2 separate regions of the Homo sapiens genome follow, and region 1 is linked to region 2. Evidence: fine-mapped expression QTL. A gene starts in region 2. The other region holds a variant in brackets. All regions are shown on one strand. Distances are from middle to middle.

Evidence for each region. PIP is the estimated chance that this variant, and not a neighbour inherited with it, causes the effect. A credible set is the group of variants that fine-mapping cannot tell apart.
Region 1: its variant is the best candidate, but not a certain one, in a credible set for the expression of LINC00865 in whole blood (TOPMed, PIP 0.53).

What each region holds. Positions count from the first base shown.
Region 1 is chr10:89,884,247-89,893,908 of GRCh38, reverse strand. The region is part of intron 1 of LINC01374 (long intergenic non-protein coding RNA 1374); the gene reads right to left. Among named protein-coding and RNA genes, the nearest start is that of LINC01374, 35 kb to the right of the region's middle. The variant C/G (reference allele first, on the strand shown) is at 5,711.
Region 2 is chr10:89,825,359-89,835,020 of GRCh38, reverse strand. It overlaps LINC00865 (long intergenic non-protein coding RNA 865), which reads right to left and starts at 5,528. Exons shown (of 4, transcript NR_038382.1): 1 at 5,276-5,528; 2 at 4,717-5,051. It overlaps LOC105378424 (a long non-coding RNA gene), which reads left to right and starts at 4,200. Exons shown (of 3, transcript XR_946196.3): 1 at 4,200-4,989.

The DNA of each region.
Region 1 (9,662 bases), 59 kb before region 2:
AATAAATGCAGAAAAATCATTCAATAAAATCCAGCATCCTTTCTGATAAAATTCCTCAATGTACTAGTCATATAAGGAACATGCCTCAAAATAATAAAAGCTATATGTGACAGACCCACAGCCAACATCATGCTGAATGAGGAAAAGTTGAAAGCACTCCCTCTGAGGACTGGAAAAAGACATGGATGCCTACTTTCACCACTTGTATTCAACATAGTACTAGAAGTCCTAGCCAGAGAAACCAGGCAAGAGAAATATATAAAAGGCATCAAAATTGGAAAAGACAAAGTCAAATTATCACTGTTCACCAATGATATGATTGTATACCTAGGAAACACTAAAGACTCTTCCAAAAGACTCCTAGACCTGATAAACAAATTCAGCAAAGTTTCGGGTTACAAAATCAATGTACACAAAGTAGCACTGCTATACACCAACAGCAACCAAGCTAAAATCAAATAAAGAAGTCAATCTATCCCTTTTGCACAGACGAAAAATACATAAAATAAAATACCTAGGAATATACTTAACCAAGGAGGTGAAAGACCTCTACAACAACTCCAAAATACTGCTGAAAGAAATCATGGATGACACAAACAAATGGAAATACATCTCATGTTCACGGATTGGAAGAATCAATATCATGAAAATGACCATACTGCCAAAGCAATCTACATATTCAATGCAATCTCTATCAAAATATCAATATCATTTTTCACTGAATTAGAGAAAATAATCCTAAAATTCACACAGAACCAAAAAAAGAGCCTGAATAGGCAAAGTAATCCTAAGCAAAAAGAAGAAATACCAAGGCATCACATTACCTGACTTCAAATTATGCTACAAGGCTGTAGTAACCCAAACAGCATGGTACTGGTATAAATGTAGACACATAGATCAATGGAACAAAAAAAAAGAGCCCAGAAATGAATCCAAATACTTACAACCAACTAATCTTTGACAAAGTATACAAAAGGCACCCTATTCAATAAATTGTACTGGTAAAACTGAATGGCCACATGTAAGAAAATAAAACTGGATCCCTATCTCTCACCACATACAAAAATCAGCTCAAAATAGATTAAAGACTTCAATATAAGACCAGAAAACATAAAAATTCTAGAAGAAAAACTAGGGAAAACTCTTCTGGACATTGGCCTAAGCAAAGAATTTATGCCTAAAACCCCAAAAGCAAATGCAACAACAACAACAAAAAAATGGGATTTAATTCAACTAAAAAGTTTCTGCACAGCAAAAATAATAATAATAATGATAATAATAATAATAGAGTAAACAGACAACCCCAGAATGGATTTGCATCCAACAAAGGACTAATATCCAGAATCTACAAAGAACTCAAACAAATCAGCAAGAAAAAATAAATAATCCTAGCAAACAGTGGGCAAATGACATGAATAGACATTTCACAAAAGATGATATACAAATGGCAAAGAAATGTAAGAAAAATGCTCCACATCACTAATCATCAGGGAAATGGAAATTAAAATTATGAGATGCCACCTTTGGATAAACACTTCCCTAATCCAAAGAGCCAGAGTCACTTCTCCTTTGAATCACGAGAAACTTCAGGTTACCTGATTCCACAAAGGATCTGGGTCAGCTTACAGAGACTCCAATCAACAAAACTATAAAAGGTTTATTTTTCAAGTAAAATCCTAGGGGTATGTGCATTAGAACAGGTGGGTAAGCAGAAGGGAGAAGGACTATTGAGAAGGACAAAAGCACAGGTAAGCTGGCTCTAGGATGCTACTGTATTCCGGCCAGGTTTGAACAGGAAATTTAGCTCTGTGTTTCCAGACAGCAAAATCAAAAGGAAATGTGGTTAAGTATATAATACCTATTGCCCATAATATATCCATTGTTCATTTTTTTCTCAAGAGAAACAAAAATTTTTTATCACTTAGCCTTACATGCATTATCAAACTGCAAGTGCATTTGGACAAAGGTGTGTCTTACACATCTTTGAATTTCCAACAGCACCTAATGCAGTGCCTCGCCTCTAGCAGGTGATAATTAAATAACTATCCAATTAAATTTAACTCCTTTTATTTATTCATTCAACAGATATATATTGTACATTTACTAAGTGCCTGGCACTGTGCTAGGATTGCAACAACAGAGGCTCTTCTTCTCACACAGCTTATATTCCTCAAATACTCCTTGGCATCAATTATCCTAGGGAGAATACAACATTGAACACTTCTTATGACATGAAATTCTATAAGCTTGCCAAAATCTGTCTTTGTCTATTTGTTTGATCATGTACATTTAGAGAACAGAGGTTACAAATGTACCTGGAAGCTGAAGTCATGTTTTCTTTGACCCAGTGGGTGTTTTTAATTGTTTGCCAGTTGTGACGGTTTATTTTATGTGTCAACTTGGCTGGGCTATGTTGTGCCCAGATATCTGGTCAAACATTATTCTGGGTGTTTCTATGAGGGTATTTTTGAGCAAGAGAAACCTTGAGCAGAGTTTGAGTAAAGGAAGTTTCCCCCATGTGAGTAAGCTCCTTCAGAAAGACCAGTATTCCCCAGGAAGAGAGAATTCCCCAACAGACTGCTTTCAGACTTCATCTGCAACATTGGCTCTTCTGGGTTCTGGAGAAGACTGCCTTTAGACTGAAAGTAGAATGTCAGCTTTCCTGGATCTCCAGTCTGCCAGCTCACCCTGCAGATTATAGACTTGTCAGCCTCGATAGTCATGTGAGCAAATACCTTAGAAATTAATTAATTAATTAATATCCTGTTTATTCTGTTTCTCTGGAGAATTCTGACTAATCTACCAGCATTTAAAAATGGGAAGATTTCAGGCAAGAATTTATATTTCTAGCCTACATCAGTCAGAGTCCAACCTCAGAGAAAAGAAATAACTCTGAATCTTTGACACACGAAGTACATAATGGAGAAAATTGGTCATATAGGTGAAGCGAGAACTGATAAACAGGGAATTGTGAGGGAGCATAGAGATTAGCAACAAAAGGAAGCCACTGTCACATCGAAACGGGAGAGAGAGGAGGAGGCAGATATAGGGTGTGAAGGAAGGGATGAGGAGAGAACTAAGGTCACTCAGTGGAAGCCGGAGTTGTAATAGGCCTGTCTCTCAAAAGCTAGCGTCATTTTGGAGATATTTCTGTTGCTGGAGGCATTGTTCAAGGCTGAGAGGCAGGGTTAGAAACAACCAAGTTTCTCCCTTTTTCCTCACCCCCATCTCCCACCAGTGCCTCCCATTGGTAGGACCCAGACAGAAGCCAGCTGAAATGGAATCTGGAAACCGCAGCCTATAGGAGTCAGTCTGCACAATTTAAAGCTAAGCGGTGGGAGTGGAAGAATAGACTTAAGGGCAAAAAGATTGACTTCTGAGCAGTCTCCCCTGAAAAATAAGATATTACAACATGAGCCTTGCAATCTTGCTCACACCTGTGGGCTTGAGCTGAGTAGTAGCTGTGTCCCTTAGCCTGGGCACACTCTCCTCAGTTTGCCTTAAGTTGAACCTGCCCATTTTCTTCCATTAAGTTGCCTGCCTAGACCATACAGGCCTCTGTCACAGAGACTGGAAAACACAGAATACTGAGGCTGAAAAAGTGCTATGGATTGAATGTCTGTGTGTCCTCTCAAATTCACATGTTGAAACCCTAATTCCCAATGTGATGGTATTTGGAGGTGGGGCCTTTGAAAGGTAATCAGGTCATAAAAGTAGAGCCCTCATGAATGGGATTAGTCCTCTTATAAAAAGAGACAAAAGAGATGAACTCTCCCTCCTTTTCTCATGTGAGGATAAGCAAGAAGATGACTATCTTCAAACCAGGAAAAGAGCCCTGTCTTAGTCCATTTAGTGTTGATATAAGAGAATACTTGAGACTGGGTAGTTTGCAGGGAAAAGAGGTTTATTTATCTCATAATCCTGCAGGCTGTACAAGAAACATGGCATAGGCACCTGCTCAGCTTCTGGTGAGGGCCACATATTACGTCAAAAAATGGCAGAGAAAGTCAAAGGAAAAGTAGACACATGCAAAGCAGAACTAAAATCAAGAAGTATTCTGGCCTTACAACAACTCACTCTCTCAGGAACTAATCTGTTTCTGCAAGAACTAATTCCATCTTACTAGAGCGAGAACTCACTACCAGGAGAACAACAATAAGCCATTCATGACAGATCCTCCCCCATGGCCCAAACACTTCCCAACAGGCCCCACCTCCCCACACTGCCACATTGAGGATCAAATTTCAACATGAGATTTGGTGGGAACAAACAAGCCATAACCAAGCCATAGCATTCTGCCCCTGGCCCCCCAAAATTCATGTCCTTCTCACATTCAAAACACAATTAGACAATTTTCTCTTCTAATAGTTCCAAAAGTGTTCACTAGTCCCAGTATCAAGTCAAAAGTCCAAAGTCCAACATCTCATTTGAGACTCAAGGCAAGTTCCTTCTAGCTATAAACCTATAGGGAAATTTACATTTTTCCCCTTAAGATTCAATAATTTGAGTCTATAAAACAATCTGATACTAGACAGATTAGTAGGAAAAAGGCATTCAAATTTTATGACATACATATATGTGCACAAGAGTCATATAAAATATTAAAACTCAAAGAAATGTAAGAGGGTTGACACTTTTATACCATCTTGAGGTTACAGAAGAAATGAGGGCTCTAGAGCATGGCAAAATAGGTTATGGTAGCAAAACAGGTTATGGAAGGAAGAGAAGAGGAAACACCTTACTAGCAAAGGGGTCTTACTATGCAGATGAAACCTCACAGGTAGCAGCCTTCAGAAAAAAATAAATCGTAGCCAGCAGTAAATATTTCTGTCAGAGCTTTAAATTGTCAGACTCTCAATTCATCTTTCCCAGGTCCCAACAAGGGGGGCTTCAAAGAAAGCCTGTTTCTATCTGTTGTTTACTTCACTTCATTTCCTCCACAGATGCAAACCTCTCCCTCAAAAGTCAGTTTTTCATCTGTTCTGGTGTCAGCATCTGCTCAGTTTCTGGTGAGGGTCATATGCTAGGTCTAAATATAACATAGAAGGTTAAAGGAGAAGTGAACATACACAAAGAGGAAACAAACCCAAGCATATGGGTTCATCTTGCCCACTGCCCAAAAAAGCTATTGCACTAACAGCAGGTTTTTGTGGCAAAGGACTTATGATTAACACAGGGCTAACCAAGATGAAGCTTATTACTCAAATCAGCCTCCCCAAGAACTCAGTCTAAGGTTCTTATGGATAACTTGTGGGGGGTGGGGGGGTAGGGGGGGGTGGGGGGGGGCTAGGATAAGAAATCAGGTGCTACTGATTGGTTAGGGATGAAATTATAGAGGTATGGAAAATGGTTCTTGTGCACTGAGTCAGCCTCTGGAAGGGGGTCACAGGACCAATTGAGTCATCAGGCATGGGTCTAGGTGAAATCAATTTGTCACCAGAATACAAAAATCTAAACAATCTCAAAAGACCAATCTTACATTCTGCGATAGTGATGTTACCTGTAGGAGCAATTGGTGAAATTACAAGTCTGTGGCCTCTGCTTCATGACTCCTGAGCAGTAAGGGATTATAGGAAAACAAGCTAGGAAACAACAGCTGTTTATCATTTAACTATACTTACATTTTAGCAGAATTCAGGCCCCTCTCAGAATACTAATCTTGTGACCTTTCATTGTCTTACAAAGACTGTTTCAGTCTCCAAACAAGGAG[C/G]GGATCAGTTTTAGGAAGCGACTATTATTATCCTTGCTTCACAATTAAACTGTAAACTAAATTCTTCTCATGGTTAGCTTCGTCCATGCCCAGGAATGAGCGGAGACAGCCAGCCTGTGATGCTAGAGGCAAGACGGAGGCGGCCATGCCAGACTTCTCTCACGTCATAATCTTTGCAAAGGCAGTTTCACAATGGTTGTCTTGGTTTTATAACAACTCACTGTATCAGGAACTAATTCAGTCTCATGAGTACTAATCCTGTCCCACTAGAGCAAGAATTTACTGCTGAAAGAACTGCACCAAGCCATTGATGATGACCTAAGCATCTCCCACTAGGTTTTCCCTCCCAACACCACCACAAGTTTTAACATAAGATTTGCCAGGGATAAACAAGCCGTATCCAAAACTAGCACGTCCCCACCAGGAGCCAAATCAACAACACCTTGATCTTGAGCTTCCCAGCCTCCAGAACTGTGCAAAATAAATGTTTGTTGTTTAAGTCACCCAGTCTATGGTATTTATTATAGCAGCCCCCAAACGGACTCAGAGAGGGAAACTGAAAGATCATCTAGTCCAATCTAGGTACTTATCATATTACAGAGGAGAGAGTGAAACCCAGAGGGAGACAGATTTACCTAATTTGATAGGTGGCAGAGCCAAGCTGCTCTTTCAGTTTGGTGTTCTTTCCTGTACACATCTATCTGTGGAAAGGGGAATTTAAAATTCTCCCTCTAATCGCAGAGACAGTTCCCTGGGGAATGGCTGTATTTTAAAATGCAAAACAACAACCTAGACTTTTGAATAACAAAACGATTGGTTTAAATCAGGTGGAAAACCTATTTACAAAATGGGTTTAATATAAAAAAAATCTCCAAAACCTGATCTGAAGGAATTTTGCCTTCGTGTTTTTTTTCTTTTGCTATGTCTGAACATATTCTTTTTCCTTTAAAGTGACTTTAGAAGGAATACCTAATGAAGGCTACTACAATGATGCTTTTTTATGAATTAAAATAGTTGTTTCATTGTTTTGGATGACTACACTGGTTCTCTCGGTATCTTATTCTGTTAGGTGCTCTAGCTTTTATCTAACTCAAAAGAAAATAGGGAGGGGGAATCTTTTCTGGATTACCATATGCATTTGTGTCTTTTTCTGTCTTTCCCATATTTCATCACACAATTGGAGGAAAAATAATTTGTACAGCTCAGTAATTTGAATTTTAGAGCAAGTGTTCTGAAACTTCAGACTTACCAAAGAGGTATGAACTGGGTTTAATTGAATCTTAGTTGCTTAAGTAGGTTGAGGCGTTAATGTTTATCTGATTCTTCATCATCTGCTCCTGTTTGGACTCGTAAGCCTCTTCTCTAAATTGGTTTACTCCTTTCTCAGCACAGAGATTTGCCAGGAGAAATTTCTGGAAATTCAGCAGCAGGTGTCAGTGCTGCAAAGGTCCATCCAGTCAGGTAATCTCACAGCTTCCTCTCTTCTCATATCAACTGCAAACTATTTATTATGTAGGAAATATATGCTAATAAATATGGTAATCCATATCAGTTTTAATTATTTTAGTTTGCTTCACTATTTCAATAATAAAACATTAACAACCATTTGAGTTCACTAATTCTAGATTTCCAAAAAGTGATTCCTAGAATTTTAAAAGAAAAATATTTGGTTAACAACAATATTTCATGTTAGAAGAAAAGAAGGAAGAGATTCTGTCTGGAGGAAGAAGATTAGTTTTGGATTTTTTGTTTGTTTGTCTTCTCAATATATCTCTTTTTCTTAGGGTGAAAAGCTTATGTCATTTATAAAAATGAGGTTACAAATTAGCTCACTGGTGCTCATCAGTAGTTTATTAGTCTCAATCTTATTAATAATCATACTGTTCTTTCTGGGAAGCTAATAGCAAACTGAAGATCACTTTGAAAGATAATTGGCTTTGGCTTAGTAACAAAGCCATGTTTATAGATGTCTCTGGAAAAAAAGAAACCCACACACCATCAAATAATATTAGAGTGTCATGGTCCTTATGGCCAGATTAAGACTACTTCCAGGTGTCTCCCTTCCTCAGTAAGCTTCCTGTTTCCCACCAAACCAAAACCAGAACATATTGCTGACCAAAACACAAACGGTTTATATCCAGCCTGTTCTTCCTGAACAGTATCCAACTTTATTTGGAAGCAGAAATTGCCTATTCTCTGGAGATGAGTTGTGATTAGCCAAATCAATTCTGTTCCTCACTTTCCCAGTCTCCTTGCAACTAAATATGGCCCGGTGATATAATCCTTGTCTAGAAAATATATGTGAAGGTGGCCTGATAAAGGATCTTACATGTCCTGCTCCTTCCCCATTTTTCCTGATGGCTGGACCTATAGCAGCCATCTCGTAGCCGTGAGGCAACCAACAGGAGAATGAAGGTGTACACGCGAAGAATAACAGTTCAGAATGATAGAAAGTAACTGGGTCCCTGATGGGAGAGTTGAGAAGATGAGCCTACAACAGTAACCACCTACCCCTGGAATGCCAATAATGTAAAAACAAAAATCTTAATAAATTATTGGTGTAAGCTACTGCTGGCGTTTCTAACTGCTATAACCTCCTTTTCCCAGGAAAATCCTAGAACCTTTGTCTGTGACACTATTCTTCCATTTACTCTGATAAAAATAAAAGAACAAAAACATCTTGTTGTCCATATTCTTACACCATTAAAACAACATGCACAGGGTTAGGATTTTCATCAGTTTGACAATTTACTAAAGTGTTTAATTTACTTCTGTGCCAGAAAAATCTTGTAGCTGCATCCAAACTGATTATTTATAACGTGAGATGTTATTTGAATGACAGTGTATTTTATTTTCCAATTACATTTTGTTTAAGAGGTAAAATATCCATTTATAAAACTACTGCTGCTATAAAATGGTTTTACTATTAAAATCTAGATCCCTTAATTTATTCATATAGAATCCATTATAGTATACAATTTGGATGGACTGGGGTCATAATAAGAAGTCTCTTTTAATATCAGAAACAAACAATAACAGAAGCAGATTTAATCTGTCAGCCTTAATCTTAAACTCCAGATAAATTCTGCTTTACCTATCTCAAACAAGTGAAACAAGAGTGATTAGAAGTTAATAAAATCAGTATGTAGTATAAAATAGATGCTAAATAAAGTTAATGAGTCAAGATAATATAATTCTGACTACACAGGATACTAGTTTATAGTATCTGAAGTTTCAGCAAACAAGTTGAATCCCAGCTGAGTTCCAACCTAACTATATGTACTTAATGTTCTTTAACATATAAGTTCAGGTATCCAAAATAGATAAATGAGAGCTAAAATAATAAACACTGTATAATTATTTCATACTCTTCCAAGGTTTTCATAAAATCTTTAATTGAATCCATCACAAAATTATTAATATATAAACTGGTCAATTCAAGTATCTAGTTTCACTATATCTTTTCATTACAGTAACCAGTTGCTAGATTGAAGTGTTTCCCACATAAGATGTTTCTTATGTAGAATGACTTGATAGGAGCTATAAAGAAAGGTTATGTAACATAATGGGCAGTGCACATACTTCAGAGACAAAATAGAGTTCATTCTTTGCAATTGATCACTGTGCATCCTTGGGCTAGTCACTTAATTTTACTGAGCTTCAGTTTCCTCCAAGGTTGAATCGAGATCATACCTACCTTTAAAGATTGTTGTGAAAATCATTTTATAAATAAGTATCCTGTCAAACTACAAGCCGGTGAAACCCTAATTTTATGATGCTAAAAATTAGTTGGTTCTGAATCACTTAATGCCTATATGAAATACCTGCAGTATAGATTATATGCTTGTAGCAATTCAAGTCCTAATAGAAAAAACCAAAGAGGCATCTTGATACCTTAGAAACATCTGGATAGACACAGATGAGAATTGTAAAGCACCAGAATGTCCTGAGA
Region 2 (9,662 bases):
TTATATTTTAAATTTCTATATATACAGTTTTTTTGTTTTTTGTTGTTGTTGTTTGTTTGTTTCTTTTTTTTTTTTTTGAGATACAGTCTTGCTCTATCACCCAGGCTAGAGTACAATGGCATGATCTTGGCTCACTGCAACCTCCACCTCCCAGATTCAAGTGATTCTCATGCCTCAGCCTCCCAAGTAGCTAGGATTACAGGCATGTGCCACCACGCCCAGCTAATTTTTGTATTTTTGGTAGAGATGGGGTTTCATGATGTTAGTCAGTGGATCTTGAACTCCTGGCTTCAAGTGATCTGCCCGCCTAGGCCTCCCAAAGTGCTGGGATTACAGGCATGAATCGCCACACCCCAACATAAATTTTCTATATTTTTAAGGTATAGTTTCTCCTAATGTGTGTAGGTAGGACATAATCATGCTTTACAAAAAGGAGAGATGTTCTGCTGGATTTTGAAAAATTATTTTTAAGTTCCAAGCAAGACAGGTTCTATTTGTTCCTGGAAAGGTAATTGTTTTGACATAGATTTAATGTCATTGTGTGAAGAAAGAATATATTTTAACACTTAAGCTACTTATATGTGAGGAAAAGGAGTAAGGAAGATAAGTTTTTGATTAAATAAATATAGTAATAGCATAAAATTAAGGCTCAACTATGCATCAGACTCTAGGGCTGATACCATCTTATCCTTAACACAGACATACCACACACATAGTTACTTTGCCCTAAGGATTCTAGAGCACTAAAATAGTGTATAAAAATGTATATAAGGCCAGACACGGTGGCTCAAGCCTATAGTCCCAGCATGTTGGGAGGTCAAGGTATATGAGGTCAGGAGTTTGAGACAAGCCTGGCCAACATGGAGAAACACATCTCTACTAAAGATACAAAAATTAGCTGGGCAGGGTGGTGTCCATGTAATTCTAGCTACTCAGGAGACTGAGGGATGAGAATTGCCTGCACCCGGGAGGCAGAGGTTGCAGTGAGCAGAGATTGGGCCACTGCACTCCAGCCTGGGTGACAGTCAGACTCCATCTCAAAAAAATAAAAAATAAATGTATACAAGAATGTTATGAGACACTTCCCACTAATCATCAGAAAATGAACATGGACATATACCTTTACTCCCTCCCATAGCTCACTATAAGGATCCTAAAGATATTAATTTAAAAGGTCAAACCACAGAATGAATAGAAGTGGCAAAGAGACAACAGCAATACAATTTTGGAAGCAACAATGCAGATGTTTTATTAGCAGTTTTTAGCAAAGATGAGAAAGCGAAAACCTAAGCCAGCAGTGGCAGAAATATAAACAGAGTAGTTTCTGCTGCAAATCCCTCAAAAGCCCTGAATTGGAGGTGGCATGTGCCCAATGGTGGAACAGGTAAGATGAAAAATAGGGGAACTGGAAGTCTCAATACTTAGCAGTCCATATCCACTCCCCACTGGCAGTAAACTGGTTTATTCTCCAGAGATGTCAATTCAGCAAAGCTCTGGACTTTAGGACCAGAGTCGCCCTAAAGGCAGTAAGACTGTTCTGAAAACCAGGGAGCAAGTGACAGGGTACATTCCAAACAGACTATTTGACCCCCTTATCGATAAGGATCCCAGAATATTGATGGCTAATTTAGGGTGCAGCATTCAGGCTTGGTTTATTTTCTTCTTTCTATATGTTTTTCATTCTTTACAATGAACATATATGATGTACGCAGTTTTAAAAAATCTAGGAGGTGAATAATTTTCAACCCAGAATTCTATATCCAGCCAAACTATCTGTTGTGCTACTCCAAAATATAAAGGATTATTGAGCTGCAGGTAATTAAGAAGAAGCAGATGCAGAGAAGCTCTCTGCCATCCCTCTATTTGCCTAAAAGCAGGACATACAAAAACTAAAAGTATTCTGCCTCCCTTCTACCAGGGAGACCAAAAGATAACCACATAAGACAACTTTAAACTGTTACCACCTGGAGATGATACCAGGGAAATCTCCATTAACAAACATTACTAGCTAGCCTTTATTTGCTATGCATTTGCCTTCCCACAAGTTGCCACTCCTAAAGTTCTTTTCCTTTACCTCTCCAGAAATTTGCTGTTCATTATTGAAGATGCTATATCAGCCAGAATTCAAAGCCAATTCTGAGAACTACTCATTCCCTGGGTGTCTCTGGTGTATGTATGAAATACACATGTTAATACACTTCTGTTTTTCTCTTGTTGATCTGTCTTGTATTACAGAAGTTCATTTCAACTAAGAACTTACTGTTGAAGAAAATGATTACTCTTCCTCTATACAACCAATTATGAGAGTAGATTGAAACATTTATCTCACATGCAAGGCCTCATATTTACCTCCAGACATGCTATAGCAGAGCCTTCTGAAAGATGCACTCTATCAAAATGAAGGCGTACTACCAGAAAGAAAACCAGCCACATATTCACAGAAATAGGGGATCCAATATATGAGAGAAAAAAATTGAATTGTCAGGATAACAGTAAGAAAACATCTCAGGGCCTACAGAATAAGTAGTCCAGATTGGAACAGGAGAAAAGAGGGGTTCAGAAGCAAAGAATGCCTTCCGTAGGGCCGACTCATCCATTAGGCTGAGTAGGCATAGTGCTTGAGGGCCCATGACGCTGTTAGGAATTTACAAAAATGTCGTCATTTTAATTTCCTTTAAAATTAGGAGATAAAATTAATATAATAACAGTGACTATATGATAATAAATCCACCCTGATCATATTTACCTTTATACCAACGTGGCTGTAAAATAATTTTTATTTTTTATGGAGGAAGGAGCTCATGAAGGCAATGTACCTAGGACCGTGGCCTCCAGGAAAAAAAGGAAAATAAAAGAAACTGGATAGTTTCATTTGAATGTATCAAAAGGCACTTAAGACTTGTCAGAATTTGGCAGAATGAACTGATAATAACTACTTAGAAAACTAACTAAACAAAAATCAAGGCAATGCATAGTCAAGGAAAAACAAAAGCAAAGGTCTACAAAAAAGAAGTAAACCTAATACACTACAAGTTCATCTGTGAATAATATTTACATTGTCAAAATAAACACTAAACACTGATAAGATTTTTAAAAATATGATATTGCAAGATTAAGAAATGAAAGAAGAAGCTACATGCCCAGTTGTAAGACAGCCAACTCCTCATCTTTTGTAGAAGAAAGGCAATAGATAAGAACCAAACTGAAAAATAAATAGTATGAGAGGTATATTATAGGCTTGTGACAGTAAACAATAGAAAAAAAAACAGTTAAAAGAGATGAAAGTTGTTGCCTTTGGAGAGTGAGAATCAGAGATGGAGAAGAGTGGATAATGGTGTAATTTGCATTACATGACATACAACTTTTTGACTTTATGAACAAGAACCTAAGTTACCTTAATGAAATTTACAATTAAAGAACTTTAAGGATTGTTGAGAGTTAATATAATTAAATGAAGAATTTTCTACTTTTCTAAGTGTTTATGTATTAATTTTTTTAACATTTAAGAAGTGTGAAAAATGATTGAATTACATGGTAGCCTACTTAGATGCCATGAAAGATGTGCTCATGGGACATTAAAGAGATTGAGTAGACTGTGAGGCCAAAGTGAAATTCCAACCTGATGGAAGTGAACAGGGAATACTTCAAAAAGAGAAGAATGACTGAAAATGAGGAAAGTGAAAAATGCTAAAACTGGTTAAACAGAAGGGTCAGGAACAGTCAATATGTTATAGTCAGTATGGAAGAATACAATATACATTATGTATATGAGCTTTTCATGAGAAGACATGGGGGAAGAGTTAAACAATAGAATAACAACCATAATATTTTATTAATAACTATTATGAGCTGCTAAAATGGCATATATTTGGTAGGATATTAGTATATAAAAAAGGCTTGAGGTATTTAAAAATCTGTTCCCAGAAAATTATCCCCAAAAGTCAAAATATATATTTCATAGTTCTTTTAAATCCCTGACTTTCCAGCCACATATTCATACCACAATGCTGCACACTAAGCTGTAGATGGTTGAGTGATATGGTTTTGAAAAGATAATAAAAGAAAATTGAAAAGACACTCTTAGGTAAAACAAAAAGAAAATATTTCTCTCAGACAATTTAAAACTTAGGTAGTATAAGATAATTAGGGTTTTTAAAGAAGTCACTTTACAGAAGAAAGGAAATAAAAATTTTGCTGACCATGGCATATTTAAGAAAAAAAATCCAAGCAAAGAGGGGAAGAGTTATGATGAGCAGTGAGCAGTGAGGTATAAGCCCAACACTTTTCAGCCCACTGAAGTGTCCTGCCTACAGAACTCAAGGCAATTTCAGACTTCCTATCGACTGACATAGGTTTGGGGGTGCGGGAAATGACTCAAATGCTGCCCAAAATATATTTTTAAAAACTTTTTCCCTGATAAGCTTTTTAAGCCAGATAATGAAACCAAGTTGTTCGTGTTTCATATTTGAGAATCTAAGTACTGGATAAATAATAAGGGCTATCAATTATTGGGGGCTTTAATAATTCTTCAAACATTTAATGAGTGTCTTCTGGGTGCCAGGCGCTGGGACTATAGCTGTAAACTAAACAGGTGGCTACCTCCACAGAGTTTATAGTCTAAGGATTAAAAAATTAGACCTTGCACAATAGTGGGAGGAGACGGGGAAGTAAGGCCACCGTTGGAAGGTGGAGAATTGGAGAAAAGTCTCTATTCACCTCTCCTGAAGTAGTCAAGTGAAGGAAAAGTCACAGGTTACATATAGAGAACTGGGAACATCCAGTTGCAAGAGTGAGACCACAACAGGAGCTGGCGAAGAAGTGCATGGAAGGCTGTTGCCTCTGCATTGACTGTGGGTTTGGGGCTGCTGTTGGTCAGCAAGGCAGGCAGAAAAGGACACCAGCTGGAGTCAAGACAGAGGCAGGCGAGGACAAGCTAGAGCCCACAAGCAGTACATCTACACTTCTCTCCTTCCGCACCAGCTACACAGAGTAACGGTTACTCTTTCACTTCTGCTTCCCAAATCTGGCATAGATATATCTTTTGGCCAAACCTGATATGGAGACATAATGGAAATGAAGTTCTAGCTTAGGCCAGTTGATACAAAACCAGCACGGTCCATCCCTTGTCAAATTGGCGGCCGAGAGCACCTCCTTTTACCATATTTAATTTCCAGTAGCAAAATCTTGCTTCAACCTAAGGTGCAACTAACCCTGCTACAACTAGAAACACCCTAAACCTCTCTCCAATGAGGATATGAAGTCCCGTAGGACTTACCGCATAGGTCACTTTATCTTTGGGGAAAGTTCATCCTTTTCTAGCTGAGTCACACTGCCCTTTTAATATCCTGAGATACATGCTGAACTACAATACTATTGACACGTTTTATGTTCAATAGTAGAATGGATGGAGGAAGAGAAAGAAAATGAACCAGTATTATATTTGCAAAATGAAAATCAATCCTTCTGAAATATTTAAACGGTTTCTGCCTTTGTAGGAGACCGTTTGGTAACGTATCGAAATCCATAACGGCCGTGATTGGCGCGCAAGCGCGGGGCTGCCCAGGGGCCCTCCTTGCCTCCCGCCTTATGGGCCCGGAAGGTCCTTCTTTCCCCTAGCTTGGACTCCAGCTCCTGCCCGCGGAGCTTGGTCTAGCTGCGGGAAGCATTGAAGCACAAGGAGAGTACTTTTGCACAATGACCTCCAAATTTTACTTTGAGGACTTTATCATAGTGAAACTACCATGGCTGTAGCTTATATCGGTTTTTTTTTAAATGAAAATAACCTAATTATGCAACAGCGGGAGGGTTGCTTGAGTAAATTATTGTTAACTCCAAATGACAGAATAATGTATGAAACAATTAAAAATAATTTGTTAAAACAATGAATGACTTAGAAAGATTTTTATTATTAAGTGAGAATAAAAGCAGAAACCTAAAAGATATATTCAGTATGAGCTCATTTCTGTAAAATGATGTATTTTACAGAGGAGAATAAAGTTTAAAGCATGCAAACCAACGTGGTAACTGTATTAAACCTACTTAATAACAAGAAGCTATTCATAGTAAATAAGTTGAATTTATAGAAAGAAATTTACTATGAGGACAAAAAAGGATAAACAGGAAAATATTTGCAAAACAGATAATCTAACGTATAACCAGTTCCTTCAATTAAATAAGAAAATAAGAATCCAATAGCAAAAATGAGGACATGTTTAGAAAAAGAAATAAAACATTTTAAACATGTGAAGTGTTTTATTTCATTTCTGCTAAGAAAAAGCAAATTAAAACAAAAATCTAATATTATTTTAACCATCAGAAAGCTTGACACATTGAGTTGACAAGAGTAAAGGAAAACAGGCATCCCGATATATTGCCAGTGGGAGTAGAAATTGCTGACACCTCTATGAAAAAAATACGCAAGCCAAAATTTTCAATAATGTGCCCCTAAACCCAACAATTTTACTTTAAAGTGTAGACATTCATTGCAGCATTTTTTATAATCTGAAAAAAACAGAAACAAATGTACAGATAAGAACTGGTTAAATAAATTATGGCAAAGCCATACAATGAAATACTCTGTGATGATTAAAAATAGTAAGGCACTTCTTCATGCAATTATATGGAAAGATCCCCAATATATATCAAGTAAAGGATTTTAGGTATATAATGGTATAATTAAACCCTACCATTTTTGTAAAAATAAAATATGTGTGTATACACACATATCAGGTATGCACACCCACATTCCTATATGGGCATAAAACATCTCTAGAATGGAACAACAACAAAAAATTGATAAATTGCTCCCTCTATAATTTTGAGGAAGCTCCCAACAGCTAATTAATTTTTGTTCTTTGCCCTAAACCTGCCCCTTTTTTCATTTTTTTCATTTCCAAAAAGGTACTACCATTGATTGTCTCAGAAAAGTAGAAATGAGATTTGTTCCTTCTCTTGTCCTCACCCAACCCCCATTAAATCAGTTATCAAATCCTGCTAACTTTATTTCCAAAACAAGTCTCAACTTTATCTACTTGTATTACAGATGTTGGCTATTTATCAACGTTTTCTGTTCCTTTCAACCTTAGTCATAGACGTCCTGATTTTCAACTAGACCTGTAGTAACCTAGAGTAAACATTTTATTGTCTATCTTCCATTGTAATCACATGGGGCCATGCTACTGAGTGCTTTCCAATGAGCTGTAACTGCAAGCATCACGTATAATTTCTAGAAATTCTCTTACAGGAAAGGGATGTATCTTTTTTCCTCCCTTCATCATTCACGTTGTCTGGGATGAAAACAACATGACTGGAATTAAAGCAGCCACCGTCAATGAGGAGGTTGAAGTCACGTATTGACAAAATGGAAGGAATCTGGTCCCTAAGAATGGTGGAGCCACCAATTGAATTCTAGGCTATGTACAGATTTCAGTTATGCGAGAGAGGAATAAATATCTGTCCAAGCCACTGTAATTTGGAGTTTCAGTTACAGCTACTCCAAATCCCAAATGATAAAATGTCTCTGTATTTCAATGGCCAACCACCTGACCAAAGCCCAGTCCATTTCACCTGAACTGCTGCAACAGCTTCCTAACTGTTCTATCCACATCCCACCTTGACCTCTTCCTCTGCTGAATTCTCCACACCTCAATAAGAACATGCTTGTAATATATATATGTATATATACGTATATATACATATATATGTATATATACATATATATGTGTGTATATATATATATATATATATATATGATCGAATCCTCCCTTTTTTTTACAATCCTTTAAGAAATTCCCATTAGTTTTAGAGTAAGTTTAAATTCTCAACATAGCCTATTCAATCTTACATTGTCTGGCTCCTAAAACTTCAGCTCATCCCTCGCTGCTTCCCCCCCTCACTCACTGGGCTCCAATCACATGGAAGTTTCAGATATCCTGTGCCCTCTACTGTTAGATTCACCTTAAATCTTCTGTCTCCAGTCCCTACTGCCTACTAAGTCTACTAATCAAATCTTTCGGGTCTCTGGTAAAATGCAACTTCCTCAGGAATTATAGTCAGGAATCATGACTATACTTTCTCATGACATCTTGGATTATGCCTTATAGTCCTTATTTCCTGCATGGTTAGCATGGTTATTTGTGCAATTATTCCTTTAATGTAGAGGTTTCAAATGGTATGTAGGACTAATCTGCTTACAGATGCATTCCATGGTCCACACAGTATTTCTTTTGAAAAGCTTTAATCAGTGCATTCTCTTTTTGGTTTGTCACACTTCCCATCAATTCACACCATTTCACAAATTTAGGTCCCTTTCCTGCCTCCTGCAGGCCTTTGCACATTTGGCCTGCCTCTCCTACTAAACTAGAGTCTCCATGAGGGTAAGGATGGTGCCTGTCTTCCTCATCACTCTATGCCCACTATCTGACATCCTTAAGACCTATCAAGGTGCTCTGGAAATCCTTGCCTAAGGAATAAAGCCAATGAATGAGCTGTTTTCATTGCCATTATTAGCAGCCTTTTTCTTCCTTTGGTTTTATTTTTAATACCAGATACCATAAGTAGATAAGTGTGGTGGAAGTATCCATTTGGTAACTATTTCACATGAAATTTTGAACAAATTTAGCACAAGACTCTGAACCTTAAGGCAAACTTTCACTTTTTATCCACTGGACTAAATAGAAAGTAAATTCATATAGTTACACTTTTGAATTTTGAGAAGTTTACAAAAATATTTCATCCAGGCCATTCTATTTCTATTCCCTAGGAGTTAGGCACCTCACTGACAGTGCCCCCAATTCTCCAAAGGCTTTTTAGCTCAAGGTTTAAAAAATGAAATGTAACTTTTAAAAAAGCAATCTGTCCTCCCTGATGGCAACTCCAAAAAATAAACCCAGATCACACTGCTTAAACGTTTTATGACAGCAAACATTGTGCTTAATACAAAACAGGAATTTTCAATTTGTCAATAATAAGAAAATGAAGATGCAAAACAAAATGTCTCTGTATTTTCCAGATATTTTATTTTTATGTTTCATATTTTCTTATTCTTCAAAGGGACAGAAGTTTGAGGTTTTGTATTTATTTTCTAAAGCTGTGGCCTTCTATATTTTGACAGAAAGTATTAGGGCTGAGTTACTTCTAAAAATTCCAGGTTCTCCACTCTTATAACACATTTACATTGACTTGAAAATTTTTCATTGCACCTACACACACATTTTTTGTAGGTTTTCCTCACTTGGTGAAGACTGCAATGTTGTTAATACCTCTGAAGCATTTTAGAGTTACCCAAACTCTAGATGAAAATTCTACAATAAGGAAATTCAGCAGGATGCTAAATAAGCAATATTGCTCTTTCTCTATAATTGTTGTCAAAATGTTAAAAGCTAAGCCTTCCAGCCAAAACAAAAAGAAATGATAATTTTCTGGATTGGATCAATGGTCCATTCAGGCCAATAGCATCTTCAACAATTCATTTGGGAGGTGATTTGCCCCTAACTATAATGTTAACAAGAACAGTGTTTCTCCAAGCATTTCAGAGTCTCTTAATCATGGTTCTTTTATTTGTGAATATATAAAAACATTTTTAAACTCATAATATTTCCCTTGACTTACTGTCCACCAGAGGAAGTGGTATTTTCTCTTACTTGGCTTAAGCATTCTTAAGC